Homo sapiens: one gene and its partners. The protein of the gene in region 3 interacts with the protein of the main gene of each other region in a biochemical or structural test. Each region holds a gene or a part of one and is shown on either strand. Other genes may lie near its edges. The genes, in order: YES1, NUP62 and OGT.

What was found.
Region 1: of the proteins of OGT (region 3) and YES1, one has a biochemical effect on the other in vitro, tested with the Homo sapiens proteins (one study listed by BioGRID).
Region 2: of the proteins of OGT (region 3) and NUP62, one has a biochemical effect on the other in vitro, tested with the Homo sapiens proteins (2 studies listed by BioGRID).

What each region holds. Positions count from the first base shown.
Region 1 is NC_000018.10:805,602-809,351, forward strand, and holds part of YES1 (tyrosine-protein kinase Yes), read right to left. Parts: intron 1-3,750. UniProt on the Homo sapiens protein: Non-receptor protein tyrosine kinase that is involved in the regulation of cell growth and survival, apoptosis, cell-cell adhesion, cytoskeleton remodeling, and differentiation.
Region 2 is NC_000019.10:49,922,886-49,926,635, reverse strand, and holds part of NUP62 (nuclear pore glycoprotein p62), read left to right. Parts: intron 1-3,750. UniProt on the Homo sapiens protein: Essential component of the nuclear pore complex. The N-terminal is probably involved in nucleocytoplasmic transport.
Region 3 is NC_000023.11:71,550,075-71,553,824, reverse strand, and holds part of OGT (UDP-N-acetylglucosamine--peptide N-acetylglucosaminyltransferase 110 kDa subunit), read right to left. Parts: intron 1-3,750. UniProt on the Homo sapiens protein: Catalyzes the transfer of a single N-acetylglucosamine from UDP-GlcNAc to a serine or threonine residue in cytoplasmic and nuclear proteins resulting in their modification with a beta-linked N-acetylglucosamine (O-GlcNAc).

The DNA of each region.
Region 1 (3,750 bases), on a different chromosome or scaffold from region 3:
ACTGTCAGAAATGAAACTAAAATCTAGATAGTGTTAGTGCTCTACCTTCCAGTCCTTTCCTTATAACACCATATTGCCTTCTCTGCTCCTTCCAAATGTCTGGCTGCTATTATTTTTAAAGTATCCTTATCTGTAAAATATTAATCACATCAGAACAAAAGTTAGAAGTCAATACATTCGCCAGGAAACAATGTGAAGTATTAACTTATACACAACCACCACCAACTTCCTCACCTCACCCCAATTTCTACTTAATGCTAAGAAACTGAAAAGTTACATTAAAAAATTAGAGAAGTGAAAATCCTCTTAAGTCAGTTGAAGAAAACCTAGAATCCACATTTTGCTGGGAATAGAGGCTGAAAACCAGACAATCTTGAAGTTTCAGGGGTCAGTACTTTTCCTCCTAGCACTTCCTGTTCCGTCCTCACCCCCAATAACCCAGCAAAAGTACACCTATGAATTATGCATTCCTTCACACACATTACTGCAAGAAAATCAGGACTTCTTTTTCTTTTTGTCCTAGGTATATATGAACAAGTCATAATTGTAATACTGATTGTCACTACTGTGATGAGATACCAAATGCATTTTTTAAAAATCTAGGATTTTTCTTCAGCATAACTTGGACTTTCTTCACTAAAATAGTACAACGTATTTATTTAAAATAAACCTTACTAGAGACTAGTTTAACTTCAACTACAATGAATTTTCAGTTCATATTAGAAATATCAAAATGACCTTTAAATTCATATTTGAAGGACTGCTTAAGCTATTTTGTAAAATCACCTTCTAGAACAAAACCTTGAGAGCAAAAATCTAAAGAATTAACTTCGAGCTATGAAAAAGTATTAAGCTAGTTTTATAACATTTTAGTAGAGGTGTACTCAAAAGATTTGTTTTGTTTGCGAAAAGTCCATAGCTGTAATTCATATAAATCTGCCCAGAACCACATCCCTACATACAATTCAGAATTTATTTAGTATTTATTGTGCTAAGGGCTGTTCTCAAAGATTGCTATAAAACAGTTCCTTGACACAGTGAATACTAGGTCAAGAATAACAGACAAGCATGGAAAGAAATAATTACAGTGCAAGGAGAGGTGTGTTTTGACATAAGTGTTTTGTGGGAGCACAAAGAGGTCATAACACCAATCTCTTGCTAAGTATATGCCATAATGATGTGTACTTCTTACTGTTCAAATGCATGGTCTAACTGTACCTCATCCTTCCTCTGGTTATACAAGTTTGAGCACTACTTTTCTCAATCCTCTCTAATCTCCATCCCAAATGCCAAACCCCAAACTACCAAATTCCAAAGACAAGATAAGTCAAAGGAATATCTCCAGATTTTCAGTAGATAGTAGTGGTAAAAGTAAGGACAAGACGCTGCTGTGGCTGGGTGTGGTGGCCTGTAATCCCAGCATTTCGGGAGGCCCAGGCAGGTGGACTGCTGGAGCCTAAGAATTTGAGACCAGCCTGGACAACACGGTGAGACCCCATCTCTCCAAAAAATTCAAAAATTAGCCAGGCATGCTCCAGTCTGGCCAACATGGTGAAACCCTGTCTCTACTAAAAGTACAAAAATTAGCCGGGCGTGGTGGTGCACGCTTGCAATCCCAGCTACTCGGGAGGCTGAGGCAGGAGAATCACTTGAACCTGGGAGGCAGAGGTTGCAGTGAGCCAAGATCGTGCCATTGCACACCAGCCTGGGCAGTAGAGTGATACTTCATCAAAAAAAAAAAAAAAAAATTAGCCAGGCATGGTGGTGCACACCTGTGGTCCGAGCTACTCAGGAGGCTAAAGTGGGAGGATCCCTTGGGCCCCAGAGGTCAAGGCTGCGGTGAGCTGTGACTGCACCACTGCACTCCAGTCTGGGCAACAGAGCAAGATCCTGTCTCAAAAACAAAGCAAAACACAAAAACACAAAAGATGCGACTGCTGCTATTTGCTTGGCATATTTATAAGCTGAGCAGCATTTTAGAAGCAGCAAAATTTGCCTATGGCATCTTCCAGTCTGGGGATTGCCATATATAGCTGATAACGTATTTGCAACTGTTGATGTCCATCTTCTCAAACGCCAGGGATAAAGAAAGAACAAAAGGAAAAGAATGCAGAGTTCCTACTAGCAAAATTCAGGCAGCCACCACGGATATGCAATGTATAGCTAATTCTAGAAGTTATCCCTCTTGAAGGCCTTCCACTTCCTAGGAGAAAGTAGAGTCCAAAGAACCTATATGCCAGCAATTCTACTCCCCTCCCCTAAACAACAATAAAAGAAGCAATTCTAAGAATCACAGCTTAAAGTGAAATGAAGTATAATGCTTCAAGGAACCTGCAGTCTCACAGCTTACTGTACATTTGAACAAGAGAAACTGAAGGGCATTGCTACCCTAGATTTGGGGGGGAAAAGGAGTTGAGGCACAGAGGCTTGTAACTCAGTCCATTAGTACCTCAACAGTACATTATTCTATACTCTAAAATTACAGGATTCTCTGTCTTTCCTGGAGTGGGCTTTCAGATCTTAAAGGTAAACCCAACGCAGACCAGGATATATTGCCATCAAGTCTGCTAGTTCCAAGACAACAGTAGTGCTGCTGCAGCCAACGATTCCTTGGCATACAGACATGTGAAAACGATATTGGCGGCAGCACTGGCTCTTCTCTTTCACCCTCTACTGTTACTATAGCTCCTTTTGCTAAATCTGCCTCTGAGTTTAGACAGGAGCTGGATGGTTAGTAATCACCCAGCAGCTGCAGCTGAGCAATACTCAGCCTAATTGTGGCACTGGAGCAGCTGAGAGGAAGAAAAGAGATAATACATACCCTACCATAGCCATACACGAACTACCAATAAGACAAGACACTTTAATAGAAACAGATTATTTCCTTTAAAGAAAAGCAGTTGTGCCTCGCTATAGGACTTATATTATAAAACTGTTTAAATGTGAACTGAAGGTGACCTAAGCCATGTAGGGTTCTAAACAATGGAAGATCTTACTAAAACTTCCTGTAAATATTCACACAACAAAGCGTGCACCACAAACATCACCTTTATAACATGACTGAAAGTTCCTGTGATATAAAAATTTGGCACAGATGAGATCTCTTCTTCAACTCTACAACAATGCAAAGCCACAATATCAACCACTAAAATAGCAAGCCATTACATAAAGCAAATAAAATAGCATGACCCAATGATTCTCTGCATTTCTGAAACTCCAACACCATATTGTCATTTGCCTTTTGAACCAAAACATATTCATCCTTCAGGTGCTGTGAATCTTCATAAACTTTAAACAAAAACTTATTTTATGCTGAGATTTCATGGCATTCTTAAGAATAGAAAAACTAAGGCTGAAATTACTGATCTAAAGAATTACTGTTCTAGAAAACCGAAAATAGATAAAAGTCAAAACTTAGGATCTTGATGCCGTAATTGAGTTTTGAGTTTTAATTGTCATGTTATGTAATTTTCAGAAAAACAGAGTATTTGATGACAGAACAGTATCCATTCGTTCAATAAACATTTTGATTATCTTCTATTGGTTATTTACAACATACAAGCCGAAGCGGATTTTAATTTTGTAAAACCTGTGTCTTCTGTGAAAATATTAAAACAATTAAGTTATTAAAGAAAACGAACTAGAACTTTATTTAGAAATTTTTTCCCAAAAATTCTCTAATTATTGTACATTTCGGAGTATTTGACTTTTTTTTTTGGAGACAGTCTCACTCTGTTGCCCAGGCTGCAA
Region 2 (3,750 bases), on a different chromosome or scaffold from region 3:
CAGACGTGCCCTATCTCCCCCGCCCCGCCGGTAGAATCTTTTCCTACGAAGATCTTCTAGATTGTACATGGGGACTGGGTTTGGTTTGGTTTGGTTTGGTTTTTTTGAGACAGAGTCTTGCTGTGTCGCCCAGGCTGGAGTGCAGTGGCATGATCTTGGCTCACTTCAACCTCCACTTCCCAGATTCAAGCAATTCTCCTGCCTCAGCCTTCCAAGTAGCTGGGATTACAGGCGCCCACCACCACGCCTGGCTAATTTTTGTATTTTTAGTAGAGACGGGGTTTTGCCATGTTGGCCAGGCTGGTCTTGAACTCCTGACTTCAGGTGATCCACCCACCTCGGCCTCCCAAAATGCTGGGATTTACAGGCATGAGCCACCACACCCAGTCTTAAGCAAGACCTAGCTTTTTTTTTTTTTTTTTTTTTTGAGACAGAGTCTCGCTCTGTTGCCCAGGCTGGAGTGCAGTGGCACCGTCACAGCTCACTGCAACCACCGCCTCCCAGGTTCAAGCCATTCTCCTGCTTCAGGCTCCAGAGTAGCTGGGATTACAGACATGCACCATCATGCCTGGCTAATTTTTATATTTTTAGTAGATACAGGGTTTCACCATGTTGGTCAGGCTGGTCTCGAACTCATGACCTCGTGATCTGCCTGCCTCAGCCTCCCAAAGTGCTGGGATTACAGGTGTGAGCCACCGTACCCAAGGGGGTTATTTTTTAAATAAAATTTTTTATTTTGGAATAATTGTAGATTGACTCAACAGAAAAGTTGCAAAGATAATACGGAGAATTTCTGTATGCCCCTCACTTGGTTTTTTCCATTAACATTTTACATTACTTTGCCACATTTGTCACAACCAAGGCAACATCAGTATGTTACCATTGACCAAATGCCATTCTTGATTCTGACCACACTTGATGCTGATTTTGGTAGTTGTTACTTAATGCCCTTTCTGCTCCTTCCGGATGCCTTCAGGATGCCACGTTATATTTAGGCATCATGGCTCCGCAGCCTCCTCTGGCCTGTGACTGGTTTTAGACTTTCCTTGTCCTTCATGACCTTGACAGTTTGGAAAAATGCTGGTTGGGTATTTTATGGAATGTGCTTCCATTTGGTTTTGTCTCAGACTGGGATTGCGGGATATTGAGAGGATGGCCAGGTAGGATGCTATTTTTTTTTTTTTTTGGCTTTTTTTAGTAGAGATGGGGGGGAGGGTCTTACTATGTTGCCCAGGCTGGTCTTGAATTCCTGATTCCTGGGCTCAAACGATCCTCCTGCCTCACCCTCCCAAAGTGTTAGGATTACAAGCCTGAGCCACTGTGCCCGGCCTGGGTTTTTTGTTTTGTTTTGTTTTTTAATTTTTTTGGTTTTTTGAGACGGAGTTTCACTCTTGTTGCCCAGGCTGGAGTGCAATGGTGCCATCTCGGCTCACCGCAACCTCTGCCTCCTGGGTTCAAGAGATTCTCCTGCCTCAGCCTCCCGAGTAGCTAGGATTACAGGCATGTGTCACCACACATGGCTAATTTTGTATTTTTAGTAGAGACGGGGTTTCTCCATGTTGGTCAGGCTGGTCTCGAACTCCCGAACTCAGGCGATCCACCCGCCTCAGCCTCCCAAAGTGCTGGTATTACAGGCGTGAACCACCGCGCCTGGCCCGGTGTGGGTAATTTTTAATAGCTTGGTCAGTAGGAGAATTGCATTGCTGGCTATGTGCGGTTTATGCTGGCTGCAGAGGTGTCTGGGCAGGGACTCTGCTTCCCCTCCCCACCGTTTTGCCGCCTTTTCTCTCTAGCTATTGGGTCCCACCCACTTCAGCCCAGCCAGACTTAGCAGCTGGACTCAGGGTGAGTGGGTGCCAGTTGGCACCCTTAGCTCTCCAGCCCCTCCCAGCCTGTTCTAGTTCATAGCCGGTCATCAGTGGTTGCCTGCGACCCTTCTCCCCAGATCTTCGAACCCTGAGTCCCCTCGTGTGCACATTCCTGACCCAGGCCTGTGGCCCCTTCAGGACTCATGTCCTGGCCTCCCCCAGCCTCGAGCTCCCCTTCAACTCCTGAGCTGGGGCTTGAAGCAAGGGTGGGGCTACTGGGGACTCTTTTTCGGTGCGGAGGGGCCTGGCTTGGGGAGTGAGGCGGTGGTTGCAGGCAGGTTGCATCAGCCCTGGCTGTTTGACGGGGACGGGGAGTTCGGGGATTCTCTGGGGACCCCAGCACACCTGGCAACCGCTCCCGGTTAGCAGAGCCTTGGATAAGGGAGAACCCCCGCACAGCAAGAGTAGGGGTGGTGTGGAGAGGGAGGGAGATCAGCCACCCGTGCAGGACCCTGAGAATCTGAGGCTCGGTGCCAAGAAGGGGCCTCAGATCACAGAGGCTTGTTAGCAGGAGTCAAGACTGAGGTCCCGAGAGGTAAGGGGGGTTGTGAAAATCACAGTGCCAGTTAGATGGGACCTCAGCCTCCACCATGCTGCACAGCTTCCAGGGCCCCGAGGCCCATGGTGTAGTCTCTGGGAGGTCTCCAAGCCCTGACCCTCACCTCAGGCCTGCTGCTGCTCACAGTTGCCAGACGCTATCGATTCCTGCCTGCACCTGCACCGTGCCATCGCCCTGCTATTGCCGCAACTCCTCACTGCTTTCCCAATCACGGTGGCCTCCTGGCATGATGGAAAAGGCTCCGAGTTTTGCATCAGACAGACCGGGGTTCTGGTCCTGAGCCCAGCACTCAGTTGTAGACTGGAGTGCAGGCAGGGCCCTCATCTGCCGAGCCTCGGCTGCCTTCCGCAGCGTGGGTCAGAGCATGGGCCCTAGAGCCAGCCTGCTGGGTTCACACCCCAACTCCACCACTTCTGTGACCCTCAGCAAGTGGCATCCTCTTTCTATGACTCAGTTTCCCCTCCGTAAAATGGGGATGAGATGGTCCATTGCAGACGGTGGTTTTGAGGATTAAATGTGTAAATGTGCGTGAAATACCTAGAGTGGGGCCTGGCATAGGGAAATGCCCTGTGAGCAGTAGTTCCTGCTCTGGGGCCTGGTGTGGGAGCGCTGTGGAGATGGCATCAGTGAAGCCGGCGGCTGCCAGAGCCCGGGTCTGTGTGTGATTCTCTCTGTTCTCGCCACGCCTGCTTCTGCTTTCAGATCCGCCGTGTGCAGATGTCTGCCTACGTGACTGCTCCCCCGAACGCTTCGAGGGCAAAGTCAGGGCCCTCCTCATTCCCAGAAACGTTCCCCACAACCCCCCGCCCTGTGCTGCTATTTCCGTAGGCATCAATACATTTTCTAATGAGTTGCTCAGCACAGAGGCCAGCGAATGTGATACTGAGGTCCCTGAGAGGAGCCAGGGAGGGTAACTGGGTCACGCAGGCCAGGGGTGCCGGGGTTGAAGGTGGGAGTCCTGGCAAACAAGGGCAGGTAGGCCAAGGCCAGCTCAGTTGGGGAGAGGATGACGCGGGGGCTGGGAGACAGCACAGGCTGCCACGTGGCCCACAGTCCTCCAGAGCCCCTTCCCTCCCTTGTGCCTGCCCTTGTCCCTTCAGTAGAAGCAGTCACAGCTCTTATGCAAAAAAAAAGGGACACAGCAAACTGATAACAACTGACACCAGTGTCCTAGAGCCCAGGATGCCATCACTCACCGCTTAGTGGTCTGGGACAAGATACTGTACCCCCCGACCTGTGGTCACCTCATCAGTAAAATGGGCACAATCATAGAACTACCTTGGGGCAGTGTGGAGGGGCAGGGGGTTGACATGGGAAGAGGCC
Region 3 (3,750 bases):
AGATACTCCTACAGCATGGTAAATGCAAACTTCAATCAAAACACCGGCCAGGTGCAGTGGCTCACACATGTAATCCCAGTACTTTGGGAGGCCGAGGTCGGACCACTTGAGGTCAGGAGTTCAAGACCAGCCTGGCCAACATGGTGAAACCCCATCTCTACTAAAAATACAAAAATTACCTGGGCATGGTGATGTGCAACTGTAGTCCCAGCTACTCGAGAGGCTGAGGCATGAGAATGGCTTGAACCCGAGAGGCAGAGGTTACAGTGAGCCAAGATTGCGCCACTGCACTCCAGCCTGGGCAACAGAGCAAGACTGTGTCTCCAAAAACAAAAAACAAAAACAAAAAAAAACACACACACCGAAAAGGTATTTGATTAAGACACTGAGTAATTGTATGTTTATTAAAGACTGATAAAGAACACTTCATCTGCTGGGCGCGGTGGCTCATGCCTGTAATCCCAGCACTTTGGGAGGCCAAGGCGGGCAGATCACTTGAGGCCCGGAGTTCAAGACCACCCTGGCCAACATGGCGAAACCCCGTCTCTACTAAAAAATACAAAAAATTAGCCGGGCATGGTGGCTCACGCCTGTAATCCCAGCTACTCAGGAGGCCGAGGCAGGAGAATTGCTTGAACCTGGGAGGCGGAAGCTGCAGTGAGCTGAGATCGTGCCACTGCACTCCAGCCTGGGCGACAGAGCGAGACTCTGTCTCAAAAAAAAATAAAGAAAGAACACTTCATCTTCACTTAGATGACAACTCTGTAGTAAACACGGCATGATGCATTTAATTTAGATTGTCTATAGTGATAGATGTCCACCCCAAGAACTTTTAAACTTTATAATAGAAATGTTTAAACATATACAAAAGCAGAGGAACATTACGTCCAAGTCTCCATTATCCATTTTCAACAATTCATATATCATGTTTGATCTTATTTAATCTATACTCCAACTTACTCCCCCTCTTCGCAGATCATTTTGAAGCAAAGCCCAGACATATTCCATTCAAAAATACTTCAATATGTATCTCAGGGACAACACAAGAATGCTTTTTCCTCCCAACCTAACCACAATACCATTATCATACCTAACAGAAAAAAAAAAAAAAAAGACAGCAATTCCTTCATATTAAATATCAGCTGGGCGTGGTGGCTCATGCCTGTAATCCTAGCACTTTGAGAGGCCGAGGCAGGCAGACTGCCTGAGCTCAGGAGTTCAAGACCTGGGAACATGGCAAAGCCCTGTCTCCACTAAAAATACAAAAAGCTAGCCGGGCATGATGGCGCACGCCTGTAGTCCCACCTACTCCGGAGGCTGAGGCAAGTGAATCCCTTGAGCCTGGGAGGTGAAGGTTGCAGTGAGCCAAGATCACACCACTGCACTTCAGCCTGGGCGATCAAGTGAGACCCTGTCTCAAAAAAAAAAAAAAAAAAATCCATTCAGTGCTCCAATTTCTCATTAACTGAGTCAGGATCCAAATAAGACAGATATAATTTGTCAATGTGCCTCTCTGAGTTTCTTTTAATCCTTTAAAAGTTTGTGTGTTTATTTATTTATTTTTGGAGACGGAGTGTCACTCATTATTTATTTTTGGAGACGGAGTGTCACTCACTCTGTCGCCCAGGCTGGAGTGCAGTGGCACGATCTTGGCTCACCGCAACCTCCTCCTCCTCCCGGGTTCAGGCAATTCTCCTGCCTCAGCCTCCTAAGTAGCTGGGATTACAGGCACACGCCACCGCACCGCACCCAGCTGTTTTTTTTTTCTTTTGTATTTTGAGTAGAGATGGGGTTGCACCATGTTGGCCAGGCTGGTCTCGAACTCCTGACCTCAAGTGATCCACTCGCCTCAGCCTCCCAAAGTGCTGAGATTACAGGGGTGAGCTACCGCACCCGGCCTAAAAGTTTAATTTAAATCTCCATTTTTATTACAATTTGTTGAAGTAAGAAGGTCAGCTTCCCAAAGTTTGAATTTTGCTGACTGCATCCCTATGGTGTCCTTTAACATGTTTCCTGTCCCGTGTATATCTCCTGTAAATTGGTAGGTAGAACCAGAAGCTTAATTAGGTTTGTGTTCTTTTCTCTTTGTGCAAGACTACTTCACTGGTGAAATTGTTTACCACAAGGTACTTAATACCTGATTGTATCTCGTTTTTGTCACTGATAAATGCTTTAACTTTTTTTTTATTTTTTGAGATGGAGTCTTGCTCTGTCGCCCAGGCTGGAATGCAATGGTGCAATCTCAGCTCACTGCAACCTCCACCTCCCAGGTTCAAGAGATTCTCCTGCCTCCGCCTCCTGAGTAGCTGGGATTACAGGCTCCTGCTACCATGCCTGGCTAATTTTTGTATTTTTAGTAGAGATGGGGTTTTGCCATGTTGGCCAGGCTGGTCTCGAACTCCTGACCTCAGGTGATCCACCTGCCATGGCCTCCCGAAGTGCTGGGATTACAGGCGTGAGCCACCAAGCCCGGCCTAATAAATGCTTTCACTATTAATGGTGATATTCTATCATTCCTTCTTCACTTATTAGCTAGAATGCTTTTATAAAGAAAAGCTTCCCCCATCAACTATTGGGTTACTCTATGGTCTAGTTCATACAGGAGAGGGAAGACATATGCTTTATTCTTTTAATTTTTAAATTTAAAGTTGATATATAATTGTGTATATTTATGGCATACAATGTGATGGTTTGATCCACGTATACATTTTAGAAAGAGTCAACCAAGCTAATTAACATAGCCATCACCTCACTAACTTATTTTTTTGTGGTTGAGGACATTAAAAACCTATTCTTTTTGCAATTTTGAAATATACATTATTAACAACTGTGGTCACCATGCAGTACTACAGATCACTAAAACTTATTCCTCCAGTCTAACTGAAACTTTGATCAATATCTCCCTTTTCCCCATCCCTCCTCCACCCCCCCAAGCCTCACCACCCTTCTACTCTCTGTTTCTATGAAATCAACTTTTTTAGATTCCACAAATAGGTGACATAATACAGTATCTACTTTCTGTGCCTGGTTTATTTCACTTAGCATAAAGCACAGATAACAAAAGCAAAAATATGCAATGAGATTGCATCAAACTAAAAAGCTTCTGCACAGTAAAGGAAACAATTACACAGAGTGAATAGGCAACCCCGGATTAGGAGAAAGCATTTGCAAACTATACAACTGATAAAGGGTTAAGAAGCTCAACTCAGTAGCAAATACGCCCATTAAAATACGGGCAAAGGATCTAAACAGACATTTCTCAAAAGAAGAGGTACAGGCCAGACACAGTGGCTCATGTCTGTAATCCTATCACTTGGGGAGACCAAGGTGGGAGGATCACTTGAGCCCAGGAGTTCGAGGTTGCAGTGAGCTATTATGGCGCCACTGCACTCCAGCCTGGGCAACAGAGCAGGACCTCATCTCAAAAAAACAAAACAAAACAAAACAAAAAAAACAAATGGCAAGCAGATATATAAAAAATATGCTCAACATCACTAATCATCAAGGAAATGCAAAATAAAACCATGAGTTAGCATCTCACACTTGTTAGTATAGCTATCATCAAAAGGACGAATAATAACAAGTGTTAGTGAGGATGTAAAGAAAGGGAAGCCTTGTAACTGATGGGGGAAGTATAAATTGGCACAGCCATTTTGGGAACTAGTATAGAGGTTCCTCAAAAACTTTATTCTTCTCTTTTTAACCAGTTTTCCAAATTAATTGTTCCTTGTAAGTCTTCCAAAGATGACC